2 separate regions of the Homo sapiens genome follow, and region 2 is linked to region 1. A link means that fine-mapping ties the variant in region 1 to the expression of a gene that starts in the linked region. Tissue or cell type: monocytes after R848. Region 1 holds a variant in brackets; the other region holds the start of a gene. All regions are shown on one strand. Distances are from middle to middle.

Region 1 (8,000 bases):
TGAATTCCTGACCTCATGATCGACCAACCTCGGCCTCCCAAAGTGCTGGGATTACAGGCGTGAACCACTGTGCCCAGCCCTGCATCTTTTTTGTTGAGATGGTTTCTAAATGATTTTGAGTACCGCCAGGAGGCCAAGATCAAAGGCTCCCCCAGGCTACCAACAACAAAGGAACGTGGCAGTGTCGTGCCCTTGTACCGACCAGGGAGGGTGGATGGTGTTTGAGTCTGGCATATGGGTCTCAGATGCCAGCTGGTAACCAGTCACAGACCCAAAATTCAGTTGACGAAAGTACTCGTCACTACAGACTGTCCCAGTGAAAGCGTCTCAACAAAAACCATAAAGAAGTCCCAGTAACAAAGGGTTCTCCTCAAAGAGTTCCAGGGAGTCCTCCTACTTTGTGAGTAGCCTGGGGGCAGGAGCCGACCTGAGTCTTTAGAGAAGTCTGGTCACACAATTGACCGTTTGTCCCAATTAGCACCTCACTCAGATACTGATACAGCCCCCTCCTGCTCATAGACAAATTGGGGGGCTCAAAAGCTCATAACCCACAGGTCCAATGGGGACTCATTCAGGGGGAGATCAGTGGCCACAGTGTGATCTCACAGCCTGGTGGATCCTGGCCCACATTTTGAGAATCGTTAGTTTGGCAGGAAGAGCACTTGGGTTCTCAATCCCATCACTGTAAACCAGAGCAGCACCTGCAGCCCTGCAGCCTCACAGGGGCCTCCAGAACTCTGTAAACGGGGACTTCCAAGGGAGAGGGACAGGCAGGCTTGGCCAGCCCCTGCAGTACCTGCTTTGTGTGTCAGTGATTCATTTAGCCCCTGTAGTAACCCAGAACAATGGAAACAATGTCTCCATTCTTTTTTTTTTTTTTTTTTTTTTTTTGGAGACAGAGTTTTGCTCTTGCCCAGGCTGGAGTGCAATGGCACAATCTCAGCTCATTGCAACCTCCGCCTCTTGGGTTCAAGCGATTTCCTGCCTCAGCCTCCCGAGTAGCTGGGGTTCCAGACACCCACCACCAGGCCCAGCTAATTATTTTGTATTTTTAGTAGAGACGGGGCTTCGCCATGTGGGCCAGGCTGGTCTCAAACTCCTGACCTCAGGTGATCCACCCGCCTTGGCCTCCCAAAGTGCTGGGATTACAGGCATGAGCCACTGCGCCTAGCCAACAATGTCTCCATTCTATAAAATATTTAGCCTCATTTTATATATTTGGGGAAACTGGGAGTTAAGTGACTCCCCAAGGCCTCAGAGCTGGCAAGTAGCAGGTGTGGGCTTTGAACCGAGGTCTGAGTTCTACCTGATCCTGCCCCTCCCCTTGCCCCAACCTGCCCCTGCCTGCTTTTGGCCTTGTGGCTGTACATTTGGCTCTGTAGCGATTGCTCAAGGAGCGGGGTGCGCTGAGACACGAGCTCTCAGAAGCTTCCCAGATAAGTGGAAGGCAGTGACACATTGATGGTACGGAGTGGATGATCAGGGCACTGAGAATCATCCGATGGAGGACAGAGGTGTTGACCACTGCCAACCCCACCCCTCTTTCAGGAGAGTATCGCTCCCCTGTTTGAGATCCGCATGGAGCTGGACGAGGATGGGCTGACCTTCAACCCGACCCTGGAGGTGGGCTCAGATCGCGGCTTCCTGGCACTGATCGAGGGCCTGGTCAACGACATCTACAACGTAGCCAGGCTCATCCCTCGGCTGGCCAAGGACAGGATGAACTACAAGGTCAGTCCTGGCCTCTTCTGGCCGTACACAGGGTCATCCATTGCTTTCCCCATTTGGTGTTGCCGCCCTAACTCGGCAAGGCTTCGCCGTTTACCTTTTCTTTTTTTCTTTTTTTTTTTTTGAGACGGAATCTCACTCTGTCGCCCAGGCTGGAGTGCAGTGGCGCGATCTTGGCTCACTGCAACCTCCGCCTCCTGGGTTCAAGCCATTCTCCTGCCTCAGCGTCCCGAGTAGCTGGGATTACAGGCACCCGCCACCACACCCGGCTAATTTTTTTATTTTTTTTTAGTAGAGACTGGGTTTAACCGTGTTAGCCAGGATGGTCTGGATCTCCTGAACTCATGATCCACCCGCCTCGGCCTCCCAAAGTGCTGGGATTATAGGCGTGAGCCACCGCGCCCGGCCCTGCTTACCTTTTAAATGACATCGTGTGACCTCTAGGATGACATGGCCACTTCTCTCCCCACTCCCACATCTGTCGTCCTTCCCAAAGCAGCTTCTTCTCAGTCAACCTGCCTGGGTTTCATTCCCTCATCATCCTTCCAACCCCCCGACACGATGCCAAGAGGGTAACCTTTCCCAACTTCCTGACTGTTCACTCAGTCCTGTAATTTTTTTGAGACAAGGTCTCACTCTGTCACCCAGGCTGGAGTGCAGTGGTTCAATCTCGGCTGACTGCAGCCTCTGCCTCCCGGGCCCAATTGATCCTCCCGCCTCAGTCTCCCAAGTAGCTGGGATTACGAGCATGCATCACCAAGCCCAGCTTGGTGATGTATTTTTTTGTAGAGATGGGGTTTTGCCATGTTGTTGCCCAGAGTGGTCTTAAACTTCTTAATTTTTTTATTTTTTGAGACAGAGTCTTGCTCTGTTGCCCAGGCTGGAGTGCAGTAGCATAATCTCAGCTGACTGCAACCTCCGCCTCCTGGGTTCAAGCGATTCTCCTGCCTCAGCCTCCTGAGTAGCTGGGACTACAGGTGCATGCCACCATGCCTGGCTAATTTTTCTTTTTTTTTATATATTTTTAGTAGAGACGGGGTTTCACCATGTTGGCCAGGATGGTCTCAATCTCCCGACCTTGTGATCCACCCGCCTTGGCCTCCCAAAGTGCTGGGATTACAGGTGTGAGCCACCGTGCCCGGCCTCAGTCCTGTAATGTAAACACTGATTCTCCCAGTACTCAGGCAATTTGACAAATGTGCCTCCCACTGCCTTCTGAAATCATCTCGTCTAAACGCATCAAACAAGACACACGGAGAGCCTGGCCAGGCTCTGGGGTAGGAAGGACAACAAAAGTCATGGGAAATTCAGCTCCCCGCTTAAGGGAGGTTTGAGGTGGTGTGTTTGTCAAAGCACCTATTTGTATAGCAATAAAAAAAAATCTGAAAAGACTTAAGTGACCTAAATGTTTGTGGAAGAGGGGAGTGGCTTGACCAATTCTGGCCCAAACCCAGATTCTGTGAATTGTCACAATGAGCCAAGGATGGAAAGGTGTTGTGACAGGTTATTAGACATTTATCAAGTTACAGAACAATGTTTAGAATATGGTTTCATTTGCTTAAACAAGCAAAAATCTGGGTGAGTGCTTACCAGGAAGGGAGGAAGGAGGGGAGGGGAGAGGGATGTGGCTGCAGGCGTTTCCTCTCATGCATTTCTGCGTTGTTTGAATTGTAAAATAATGGACACGTATGATTTGTCATAACATATATTTACAGCGAGATGAGCTGTCCTGTCCAGGAGGGAGGGATGTGCGTGTGCTCGTGTGTGTA[C/T]GCGTGTGCTTGGATGCATATGTGCCCGTGTGCGTATTTGCATGTGTGGTGGGGAGGCATGCTTGTACAGAGGTGACATGAGGACACGAGGGAACAGCTAATGACCTGAGAAGGTCAAGGACAGCTCCTGAGAGGAGTGGGCGTGTGAGCGGATTCTGGAAGGGTGGGAGGAGGTTTCCATGCTGAGAAGATGGCTGTGATTTTAGGCCCAAGTGCAAGCAGCAAGCTGTTCCAGAGTTGAGAATAGAATTTGCCCCAGTTATGCAGACGCTAGGTTAGCACATGTCCTCAGAATCAGTGTGTCCCGGGTGTGCCCCTCCCACTGTCCCCAAAGCAGGCTGCTCTTGGGCACCCACGGTTGCTGCAGACAGAGCTGCTCCACCCCTGGGCTCTGCCAGCACAAACACTCAGGCTGCCTTGCAGACACCCTGGGACGCTCAGGCAGAACATTCCAGAGCTGAAGGGCCTGTTGCCCAGGAGAAGGGTCCCTCGAAAGCCTGCTGGTCTAGCAGAGTCTTACCTGGTGCCAAGCTGTGGAAGACAATGAGAGAGTCAGGCATCTAGACTGCTGGGTCCCAGGGCCACTTCCCAGAGACCCAAGTACCCTAGCTTGGTGGCAGAGAGTACCCAAGGGATGCTTCCCATGGGTACCAGGGTGGCCAACCCAGAGGAGTTGGGTCAGGACAAGGAGGAGATAGAATGTGGGCCCCAGGCTGCCACAGGGATTTAGAGAGCTGAGCTGCCCACAGGGGACACCAGCAAGGGGCAGAGACCCCAGGCAGCAGGTCTCACCTGCCTCTGGTATGCCAGGCTGCCACCAGCCCAGCCCAACTGGAACTTGGATCCCACCTGGGGAGATCCAAAGGACTGCAGGGGACAATCTCAGCTGGAGCAGGTAGATGCCTGGAAGTTACAACACTGAAATCCAGAAGCACCTGCCTGTGCTCTGAACACTGCACTCCCAACCCTGAGCAGAAAGAGGGGCCATGAGGAGGGGTGGGAGCCAAATGTCAGGCACAGGCGAGCCCATGGCTGAATTCTGAAGCACACACCAAATGCTTTCCTGCAGCCACGAGGAGCTTCAGGTTTCTCTCCCCTGTGGCTTCTTTCCATCCACAACTTACATGCAGGGTGGCCCGGCCCAGCCCTAGGGCCAACCTTCCCCTTCCATCCCAGCCCCACTGACTTCACCTCCTCAATTACACCGTTTCCTCGTGCCACCCCTTACCAACGAGGTCCCCTGCACAGACAAGATCTCCATGCACATCTGGGTCCCGATGGGGCCTCTCTGCAGCTGTCATGTGGGCTCTGGGCTATAGGCTGTCTTCAGTTGTCTGGTACCTGACCCTGGGTGATTTAGGGCAGGGGAAATACTGGCTTGGTGTGAGAGTTGGGTAAAGGGGAGTGGTTGAGGGTCGGCTGGTTTGCATATGCATGCCCCCAGATGAGCCTTTTGCTATCTCAAAGAATTGCCTAGCCCTGGGAAAGGCCGGCTCTTCCTGGCCCATAAGGTTTTTTTATTTTATTTTTTTAAGATGTCAAAATTGGGCTGGGCGCATTGGCTCACGCCTGTAATCCCAACACTTTGGGAGGCTGAGGCAGGTGGATCACCTGAGGTCAGGAGTTTGAGACCAGCCTGACCAACACGGTGAAACCCCGCCTCTAATAAAAATGCAAAAAATTAGCCAGGCATGGTGGTGGGAGCCTGTAATCCCAGCTATTTGGGAGGCTGAGGCAGGAGAATCACTTGAACCTGGGAGGCAGAGGGTGTAGTGAGCTGAGATCGGGCCACTGCACTCCGGCCTGGGTGACAGACCGAAACTCTGTCTCAAAAAGAAATAAGATGTCAAAATTTCATAAGATGCAGACAATAAAAATGTGATTAATACACACACCGACCACCTTGGGATTCTCCAGTCCTGTATATAAGCCAACGAGTTCTCTCTTTGCTTAACCAGTTTGGGTTGGGTTTTCTGTCACTGGCAACTAAAAAGATCCGTATAGCACTGGCCTCTCGTGCTCTCTGCTCTAGCCACCGACAGTAGACTTCCTTTAGTTCCCCTAACACGCTGCCTCCTCCCACCACGGGGCCTTTGCACGTGCTTTGCTGTTGCCAGGAAAGCCGCTTCTCTTGCTCCTTGTCTACCCATCCATCAGCTCTCAGACCAATGGCCATTTCCTCGGGGCCATTCCCTGACCTGCTCCCCATTTCACCTGAAGCAAGGGGGAGGGTGGAGATGCTTTTTTCTGTGATTCTTTGATGAATGTCAGACCCCATTCCTGGGCTGTACACTCCCTGCCTGTGCCCCAGTATCTATCCCAGCATGTGGTACGCAGTGAGAGCGAGCTATCGAATGAATGAATCAATGTGTGAGTCATCTCGGGGTTCCCCAGACAAACGTCACACTTGGCATACCTTCCCATGGCAGAATATTGCAAATCGGCAAAGGTTCCTATTTCCCGTGGTGAGAGCTTGGGCCAGGCACAGTGGCACGTGCCTGTGGTCCCAGCTACTTGGGAGGCTGAGGCAGGAGGATCGCTTGAGCCCAGGAGTTCTGGGCTGTAGTGTGCTATCCACTAAGTTTGGCATCAGTATGGTGACCTCCCAGGAGTGGGGGACCACCAGGTTGCCTAAAGAGGGGTGATCGGCCCAGGCTGGAAAAAGAGCAGGTCATCATGAGAGATTGGAAGCCCTTTCGCCAACAGAGAACCACTTCTCAAGGCCGAGAGGACAACACCTAAATTATGAACCAGGCAACATACCTCCCCTTTTTGCTTCTCCCCTGCCCCTTTCAGATGGACCTGGAAGATAACACAGACCTCATAGAGATGAGGGAGGAGGTGTCCAGCCTGGTCATCAATGCCATGAAGGAGGCCGAGGAGTACCAGGATTCCTTTGAGAGGTACTCCTACCTCTGGACGGACAACCTGCAGGAGTTTATGAAGAATTTCCTGATATATGGGTGTGCAGTCACTGCGGAGGACTTGGACACCTGGACAGATGACACCATCCCCAAGACACCGCCCACCCTGGCTCAGTTCCAGGAGCAGGTGCGTGCAGACCTCACCCACCAGCCTCCTTGTCTCCAGAGTCTTCCAGGAGAGGATCACCAGGCTTGCTTTAAAACTTGGGTGAATTGTTTTAAGATGCAGGTTTCCAGGTAGGGCAAGGCAAACATCAGGAGGTGACCACCATTAGAAAGGCAGTTTGTTACTTACAGTTCCCAAGAAGGGGGCATAGCACACCACACAGGCCTGCACGGGGTAGCATCAGGGTCAGTCAGGAGGCAGAGGGAGCTGGGGAAAATGTGGGGAAAATAAAGAGCCTTTATTGTGGCTTCCAGGGAAGGAATGGGCAGAGGTCACAGGCTTAGGGTTGGCAAGTTTGAATAATTTCAGCAGGCTCTAGGCTATAGGGGCTGTCTGGTACCTGACCTCAGGGAGATGAGGGCTGAGGGCTAGTGGGTAGCAGCCCAGAAGGTAAAACCCTGTGAGAGCCCCATCAAGGGGATGGTCGGAGGTGTGGGCTCCGGGTTGGCTCATTTGCATATGAAACCACACCCCCAGGTGAATTGTTTGTTGTCTCTCAAAATTGACTAGGCCTGGGAGGGGTCGTCCATGGGCAAGGCCCCAGATGTCAGAGCATGAAGAACACAGAAAATCACACCTGTCAGTGTAATAACCTCAAATGTAAATGGATTCAATTCCCCACTTAAAAGATATAGATTGTCTGAATGGATGAAGGTAACCCCAATATATGCTGCTTAGAAGAAACTCACTTCACCTGTAAAGACAGATTGAATGCAAAAGAATAGAAAAAGAGATTCCACACAAACAGAAACCAAGAACAAGTAGGAATAACTATAGTTACATCAGATAAGACAGACTTTATGTCGGCCGGGCGTGGTGGCTCACGCCTGTGATACCAGCACTTTGGGAGGCCGAGGCGGTTGGATCGTGAGGTCAGGAGATCGAGACCATCCTGGCTAACACGGTGAAACCCCATCTGTACTGAAAATACAAAAAATTAGCTGGGCGTGGTGGCAGGCGCCTGTAGTTCCAGCTACTCGGGAGGCTGAGGCAAGAGAATGGTGTGAACCCAGGAGGCGGAGCTTGCAGTGAGTCAAGATCACGCCACTGCACTCCAGCCTGGTGACAGAGCAAGACTCCATCTCAAAAAAAAAAAAAAAAAAAAGACAGACTTTATGTCACAAACAGTAAAACGAGACCAAGAAGGTCACTATGTAATGACAAAAGGATCAACTCAGCGAGAGGATTTAACAATTCTACATATCTATGCGCCCAGCACCAGAGCACCCAGATATATAAAGCAAACAGTGGTAGATCTAAAGGGAGAGACCCCAGTACAGTAACAGTTAGGGTTTTCAACACCCTGCTCTCAGCGTCAGACAGATCATCTAGACAGAAAATCAGCAAAGAAACATTGGAGTTAAACTGCACTTTAGATCACAGGGACCAACAGACAGCTACAGAACACTTTAC
Region 2 (8,000 bases), 42 kb before region 1:
GCAGACAGCTGGAATTTGTGGGGGCTTGCTGAGTACCCCTGTGTCTGGGAGCTCTGGGGTGATATGCAGAACTGAAGTGACGGTTTAGTGGCACTGATTTTGCTCCTGGATGTTGGTGTGGGACAGTGCCAACTTCTGTGGTGGACACACCCTAAGATTGTACAAAGTCTGTTCCGTTCATTGCCCTTCCCTGGTAGCTTCTGGAGAGCCCGAGGGTGGCCTTCCTATCCTCACATGGCAGGGATGCTGCCGGGCACCCTGCTGCCAATGTGGCTGCCCTCAGCCCACCGGGGACAGGACCCTGCCACCCCTCCCATGTCCCTCTGAGCCGGGACAGAGGTCTTCCTTCACCTCTACTTTTAGTTTATTATGAAGAATGCTGCTGCGAATATGTGTGTGTTTTGATTTCTCCCTGGTGCACCCCTAGGAGGGGGTAGCTAATTGGTAGCCCCATGTTTAACCTTTTGGGGAACTGTCACTTTTCCAAAGTGGCTGCAATGTTTATACCATATCAGCCGTGGATGAGGGTGCCAATTCCTTCACATCCTTGCCCGTGCCTGGTGTTTTGTTTTGTTTTTTTCTGTCTTCTCAATTTTATCCATTCTAGTGGGAATGAATTGGGGTTTTTTTGTGTGGGAAAATACACAGAGCATAACATTTACCATTTTAGCCATTTTAAGTGTACAGTTCCGTGGCACTGAGTACACTTACATCGTTGTAAAAACACCACCACCATCCATCTCTAGAACTTCTTCACTATCCCAAATTGAAACTCTGACCCTGTTACCAGAAAGGGGTCCAGATCCAGACCCCAAGAGAGGGTTCTTGGATCTCGTGCAAGAAGAAATTCAGGGTGAGTCCATAGAGTAAAGTGAAACAAGTTTATTAAGAAAGTAAAGGAATGAAAGAATGGCAACTCCATAGGCAGAGCAGCCTGAGGGCTGCTGGTTGCCCATTTTTATGGTTATTTCTTGAGGATATGCTAAACAAGGGGTGGATTATTCATGCCTCCCCTTTTTAGACCATCTAGGGTAACTTCCTGACATTGCCATGGCATTTGCAAACTGTTACGGTGCTGGTGGGAGTGTAGCAGTGAGGACCACCAGAGGTCATCTTGGTTTTGGTGGGCTTTGGCCAGCTTCTTTACCGCAACCTGTTTTATCAGCAAGCTCTTTATGACTTGTGCTGAACCCCCGTCTCACCCTGTGACTAAGAATGCCTTCACCTCCTGGGAATGCAGTAGGGCCTTATTTTACCCAGACCCCATTCAAAATGGAGTGGCTCTGGTTCAAATGCCTCTGACGGCCCCATTAAAAAATAAATTCCTATTCTCCCTCCCTAGCCCTTGGCAACCTCCATTCTACTTAATGAATTTGACTACTCTAGGGACCTCATTGAAGTTCATTTTACTTTGATTTGCATTTTCCTAATGGCTAATGATATCAAGCTGCTTTCCATGTGCATACTGGTCATTTGTGTATCTTTCTTGAAGAAATATCTATATCCTTTACTCCTTAAAATTAGGTTGTTTTATTGTATTACGACAAGTCCCTTGTCAGATATATGATTTGCAAATATTTTCTCCCATTCTATGGGTCATCTTTTCCCTTTTTTAGGGTGCCTTTTGAAGCATAAAAGTTTTTGGTTTTGATGAAGTTAAACTTATCTTTTTTCCTTTGCTCACTTATGCTTTTGGCATCATATGTAAGACATCATTGCCTCATCTGAGGTCAGATCAACTCCTGTGTGCTCTTCTAAGAGTTTTATAGTTTTAGCTCTTACATTTGGCTCTTGCATTCTGTTAATCTATGCTGAGTTAATTCGTGTAGATGGCGTGAGGTAAGGGCCCAGCTTCGTTTTTCCGCATGTGGGTATTCAGTTATTCCAATACCATTTGTTGAAAAGGTGATTCTTTTCCCATTGAGTTGTCTTGGCACCTTTGCTAACTCAATCGTCCATAAATGGATGCATTTATTTCTGGAACCTCAATTCTATTCTAGTGATCTCTGTCTATTGTTATGCTGGTAGCACTGTCTTGATAACTGTAGCTTTGTAGTGAGTTTTGAAATCAGGAAGTGTGTGTCTTCAGACTTTGTTCTTTTTCAAAGTTGTTTGGATGGTTTTTGTTCCCTCATACTTCCCTATAAAATCTAGGGTCATTTCTACAAAAAAGGCAGCTGAGAGTTTGATAAGGATTGTGTTGAATCTGCAGATCAACTTGAGGAGAACTGTCGTCATCTTAACAATCTTCTTTTTTTTTTTTTTTTGAGACGGAGTCTCACTCTGTCTCCCAGGCTGGAGGGCAATGGCGGGATCTCGGCTCACTGCAAGCTCCGCCTCCCAGGTACATGCCATTCTCCTGCCTCAGCCTCCTGAGTAGCTGGAACTACAGGCACCCACCACCACGCCCGGCTAATTTTTTTGTATTTTTAGTAGAGATGGGGTTTCACCGTGTTAGCCAGGATGGTCTCGATCTCCTGACCTCGTGATCCACCCGCCTTGGCCTCCCAAAGTGCTGGGATTACAGGCGTGAGCCATCACGCCTGGCCCGTCTTAACAATCTTCTAACCCATGAACACAGCATGTCCTTCCATTGATTTAGGTTGTCTTTATTTCCATGATGTTTTGCAGTTTTCAGTGTACAAGTCTTAACACTTCTTTTTAAAGTTTATTCCTAAGTATTTTGTTGTTTTTGACGCTATTGTAAACGAAATTATTTTGATGCTGTTGTAAATGGGAGTTGTTTTCTAAATTTCATGATCAGATTGTTCATTATGGGGACAATTGTTTTCTAAATTTCATCATCAGATTGTTCATAATATAATTACAGAGAAATATAATTAATTTTCAAATATCTTGTATACTGCAAACTTGCTGAATTCCTCTATTAGCTCTACAATTTTATGGATTTCTTGGGATTTTCTACATACAAGATCACCTTATTGTAAACAGAGATAATGTCTTCCTTTCCACTTTGGGAGGATTGCTTGAGGCCAGGAGTTTGAGACCAGCCTGGGCAACAGAGTGAGACCTCATCTCTACAAAAAGTACAAAAATTAGCCAGGTGTGGTGATGTGCGTCTGTTGTCCTAACTTCTCAGGAGGCTGAGGGGGGGGGATCACGTAAGCCCAGGAGTTTGAGGCTGCAGTGAGTTATGATTGTACCACTGCACTCCAGCCTGGGTAACAGAGCGCGACCCTGTCCCCCCTCCAACCTCCCCTCAAAATGATCATCTAAGAGCCTTTCCACTGTGGGGTGACGGTTGGTTCCTCATTTGCTGCGCTATCATTGGTTACTTGGGTCCCAAGGGGAAGGTTCTAGAAGCCCCAGGTACCGTGAGGAGACTCCCAGAAGTTATGTGGCAGTTGGAGCCCCTCGAGGGAAGGGAGCCATTTTCTTTCCTGGTTTGGGAAAGAGTTGCTCATCAGTTTGCGGGAGAAGCTGTTTGCCTTCAGCTGGTGAGCGGCCTTCAACCATGCTGGGGGAGTCGGAGGCCAAGGTGGAGGGAGCAGGGAGGCCTTCAGAGGATGGAGGTGGGACCTAGGCCCTGGCAGACAGCAGACCCTCCACTTACCCCAGAAGTGGCTCTGCTCGCCACCGGGAGCTGTTCATGGCTCTGGGACCCCGAGGCTGGCTGCCACGTACCAGCCTGACCCCTTCCAGGGCTCCAGACTCTTCCCTGCTCCTGGGAAGGCCTTGCCTCAGCCCCCTGGCTTCTCCTGGAAGCCCCTAGCCCCAGCTTCCTCCTGTGGAGTCCTGAAGGCCTGGGGCATGGGCCACCTCCCAGAGAAGCCGTCTCTGCCCCTCCGGAAGCATGGCCTGGGACAACCCTATTGTTAACTGGGACCTCCTGGCCTTCAGCCCAGGAAACGGCTGGGTGGGAGCCTGAGATGAGACCTCCCGATCGTGCAAGAAACTTGCGGGGTGTAGGGGCCCCTCAGCCCACACATGTTATGGCTTGGGAGGCAGCCCACCCCATGCCGTTCTTGGAAGAAAAGATGACTTTGTGAAAGCCCAAATCCACAAAATCAGTAAACCAGAGGATGTTTCCCTCCAGTCCAGTCGCCTGACCAGCTTGGCGAGACTTCCAATCAGGAACCTTCCAGGACTCGGGCTCCCCTGAGTTCCTGATCCCCCTAGGAAATGACGACGTGACGCGTCCCCGGGTCTCGGAGATCCTGGGTGGAGATTAATTCAGCAGCATGCTGAAAGCCCTGTGGGAACCTGGTGAACGAGTCATCTCCATAAATGCCACGCGGTGCTCCTCCTACTTGCCTGGTGGTGTCCCCTTTTTCTTTCACAGATGTGCCTGAATCGGGTGGCTTTGCTCGTGGACCGCCATGTTTCTGCCATTTGCTGGCCAAATATTCCCCAAGTCCTCTCTCAGAGATGTTTGGAGCCTTGAATAAATCTCAGACCATTTGAATAGCATCCAAATGCTATCCACTACTGCTTCCCATCATATAGTTGTTTTGCCGATATATAGTGGCCAGGGTGAAATAAACCTGTTCCGTGGTATTACGTGTCTTTTGGGGAACTGTAGGCTGTTACAAACTTAAAAGCAATAGCTTGGGTCAAACCAAAAGGCAGAATTTGTGAGTGCTTCCAACGTCATCTGTCCACCCTGATGCTTTTCAGCAGCTGCCAGGTCTGGAGCAGGCCAGCCCCAGCCCACGGACCCCCAGAGCAGCTGAATACCCCAGGGTTCCCCTTGAAATTCAGGAGCTGCATACCTCCCAGATTGTGATGAAAACACAGCATCAGGCGACCCTTTGCATTCAACCCTGCCCTTGCAGAACTCGCCTCCAAGGCCCCCACCTCAGGCCTCTTGCCAGAGCCTGTCTTTATTTGAAACTTTGGTATTTTGTTCATAAATTTGTTTGCATTCATTTTGATGTTTAAAAATATTGACATGCCTTTTCTCTTGATGACTGTTTGGGTGTGTCTTTAAATTCTGTAAGTACCTCACTTGCCTAAACTTTGGGACTTCAGGGTGTTCTTTAAGGGGATCCCTTCCCCCCAATTCTCTAGTTAACCCTACCCCCGAGCATCTGAGCAGCTTGTGAGGGGTCTGTCAGGAATTTGCAGCTCGATTCTTTTAGGGGTGCACGCTGGGGGCTGGAGGGAGAAAGGGTGCAGAGCAGAGTGAAAGTTAAGGTGCACCACGGCTGCGGCTAAGACTGAGCGCTGAGCCTCACGGCCTGCACGTGGGGTCTGCTTCCTTCTTGCGTTTCACACATACTCTGGGGCTGCGACGTCTTTTATTGCTTTCCCAGGACCTTTCAACCTGACCCCCCAGCCTCTTGTTCTGCCTTTTCCTACCCCATCCCCTTCACACTGTCTGGTTGCGGCCATTTCCTTTTCTCTCTTTCTCCAGCATTCATCTCTATCTTTCCCATCCTCTGAACTTTATGGTCACAGGATTGTAAGCACACACCACTTTTGGGCAGCCTCACTCCCGGGGCACCCCCCATGGCGGGGCCGGGGCAGGTGCCAGCACCTGCTAAAGCACCCCCACCCCAACCCAACCACAGCTAAAAACTGCACACTCTCGACCAACTGTTTTGTTCCTGCTCCGGTAGAAACAGAGATTTCCTGCGGTGCCAGGGATGGGTGGGAAATTGGGGAGCCCGGGAGACAGTTCGTACCTGTTTCTTGCACTCTTAACAGATACACAGTGTAAGGAAAGGCCAAGATGACAATGGCCCCGGACGTCAGACTAGAGTATCTGGAGGAAGTTGCCTCCATCGTCCTGAAGTTCAAGCCGGACAAGTGGAGCAAGCTGATAGGCGCCGAGGAGAACGTGGCCCTGTTCACAGAGTTCTTTGAAAAGCCCGACGTCCAGGTGCTGGTGCTGACGCTCAATGCAGCCGGCATGATCATACCCTGCCTGGGCTTCCCCCAGTCCCTCAAGTCCAAAGGGGTTTACTTCATCAAGACAAAGTCCGAGAACATCAACAAGGACAACTACAGGGCCCGGCTCCTTTACGGCGACATCAGCCCCACACCCGTGGACCAGCTGATCGCGGTGGTGGAGGAGGTGAGTGCGTCCAGGCTGCCATCCGGGGTGTCGAGCACGACCGACTTCTCGGGAGCGGCCTTGAGTCCTGCTGCTCAGCCTGGAGTCCCTGGGCCAGCAGCAGCTGCAGAGCCGGGGAGGGATTGGAAATGCAGGCGCTCGGGCCCCGTCCACCCTGACCTGCTGAGACAGACCTGCTTGCTTTTGGTTTTTAAATTTTTTTTTTTTTTTGAGACAGGGTCTCACTCTGCTTCCCAGGCTGGAGTGCAGTGGTGGGAGCACAGCTCACTGCAGCCTCAACCTCCTAAGCTCAACCAATCCTCCAGCCTCAGCCTCCTGAGTAGCTGGGACCACAGGCATGCACCACCACACCTGGCTAATTTTCGTATTTTTTGGTAAGAGATGAGGTCTCACCAAAAAATAGCCTGTTGCCCAGGCTGGTCTCAAGACTCCTGGGCTCAAGCGATCCTCCTGCCTCAACCTCCCAAACTGTTGGGATTATAGGCGTGAGCCATCATGCCCGGCCACAGACCTGCTGTCTAACAAGACCTCCAGGTGGTGCTCGTGCCCTTGAAGTCTGAGAAGCCCCGAGCATCCCCTTGTTCTCTCTGGACAGCATTGAGACTGCCATGCTGTGCCGGGTACGGTTGCTGCCCATGGCCTGGGAAGGTGGGGACTGAGTACTGGCAGATAGGTTTCTCCAATTTTGAGACTTTGACTTAAGAAAGGGGAAAAAATGGAGTGTCATTTTATGTGTCCCTCTGCTGTCCCCCTTGGCAGGTGCTGTGTAGGTGGGGGGGACACACTTTGGGGATTCGGACCTCCAGAATGGGGGTGCCTTATCCTTCCTGGTCATCACTCTTCTCATCTGCAGTACAGGGGCCTGTGTGCTTCGCTTGTACACCAGACATTTTCTCACAGTCCTGGAGGCTAGAGGTTGAAGTTGAAGGTGTCGGCGGGGTTGGTTTTCCCCAAGGCCTCTCTCCTTGACTTGCAGATGGACATCTTCTCCCTGGGTCCTCATGTGGTCGGCCTTCTGTGCATGTCTAATCTCCCCTCCTCGTAAGGACACCTGTCAGACTAGGGCCCACCCTAGTAATCTGATTTTAATTACTCACCTCTTTTTTTTTTTTTTTGACAGTATTTTTGCTCTGTTGTCCAGTCTGGAGGGCAATGGTGTGATCTCAGCTCACTGCAACCTCCACCTCCCAGGTTCAAATGATTCTCTTGCCTCAGCCTCCCAAATAGCTGGGATTATAGGCAGGTGCCACCATGCCTGGCTAATTTTTATATTTTCAGTAGAGACGAGGTTTCACCATGTTGGCCAGGCTGGTCTCAAACTCTTGACCTCAGGTGATGTACCTGCCTCGGCCTCCCTAAGTCCTAGGATTTACAGGTATGAGCTACCGCCCCCAGCCCTTACTCACCTCTTTAAAGACCCTATCTCCAAATAGTCACATTCTAAGGTGCTGGGAGTTAGGGCTTCAGCAGATGGATTTGGGGGACACAGTTTGACCCATCACAGTCCTCCTAGGCTTTTAGCAAGGAGTGTGTGCTATGGGTGCAAGAGCTTGGGGATGGCTTTGGTACCACCAGGACAGGGCAGCTGGTATAAACTCCATGACCGGCCACACCTCCTTCTGGAAGAAGGATCCAGTTTTCCCAGGGCTCCAGACACCAGGTCTTTGGAATCCCCCTGGGGACCTGGCTCTGTGCGGGACCCAGTTTTCCCAGGGCTCCAGACACCGGGTCTTTGGAACCCCCCGGGGACCTGGCTCTGTGCGGTTGCCGAGCTGGTGAAGGCACAGGGGGCGGAACCACAGAAGTGTTTCCTTTTAGGTCCTCTCTTCTCTGTTAAACCAAAGTGAGAACATGGCTGGATGGCCCCAGGTGGTCTCGGAAGACATCGTGAAGCAGGTCCACAGGCTGAAGAATGAAATGTTTGTGATGAGTGGCAAGATCAAAGGCAAAACCTTGCTGC

What was found. PIP is the estimated chance that this variant, and not a neighbour inherited with it, causes the effect.
Region 2: it holds the start of DNAH17, and the variant in region 1 is fine-mapped to the expression of DNAH17 in monocytes after R848 (Quach 2016, PIP 0.95). The same link has a PIP of 0.9 or more in monocytes after LPS.

Annotation. Positions count from the first base shown.
Region 1 is chr17:78,531,030-78,539,029 of GRCh38, reverse strand. It overlaps DNAH17 (dynein axonemal heavy chain 17), which reads left to right. Exons shown (of 81, transcript NM_173628.4): 19 at 1,549-1,731; 20 at 6,294-6,548. It also overlaps the pseudogene RN7SL454P. Among named protein-coding and RNA genes, the nearest start is that of DNAH17, 42 kb to the left of the region's middle. RefSeq lists an enhancer at 5,463-6,662. The variant C/T (reference allele first, on the strand shown) is at 3,498.
Region 2 is chr17:78,572,753-78,580,752 of GRCh38, reverse strand. It overlaps DNAH17 (dynein axonemal heavy chain 17), which reads left to right and starts at 3,357. Exons shown (of 81, transcript NM_173628.4): 1 at 3,357-3,458; 2 at 5,671-6,040; 3 at 7,859-8,000. The coding sequence starts at 5,696.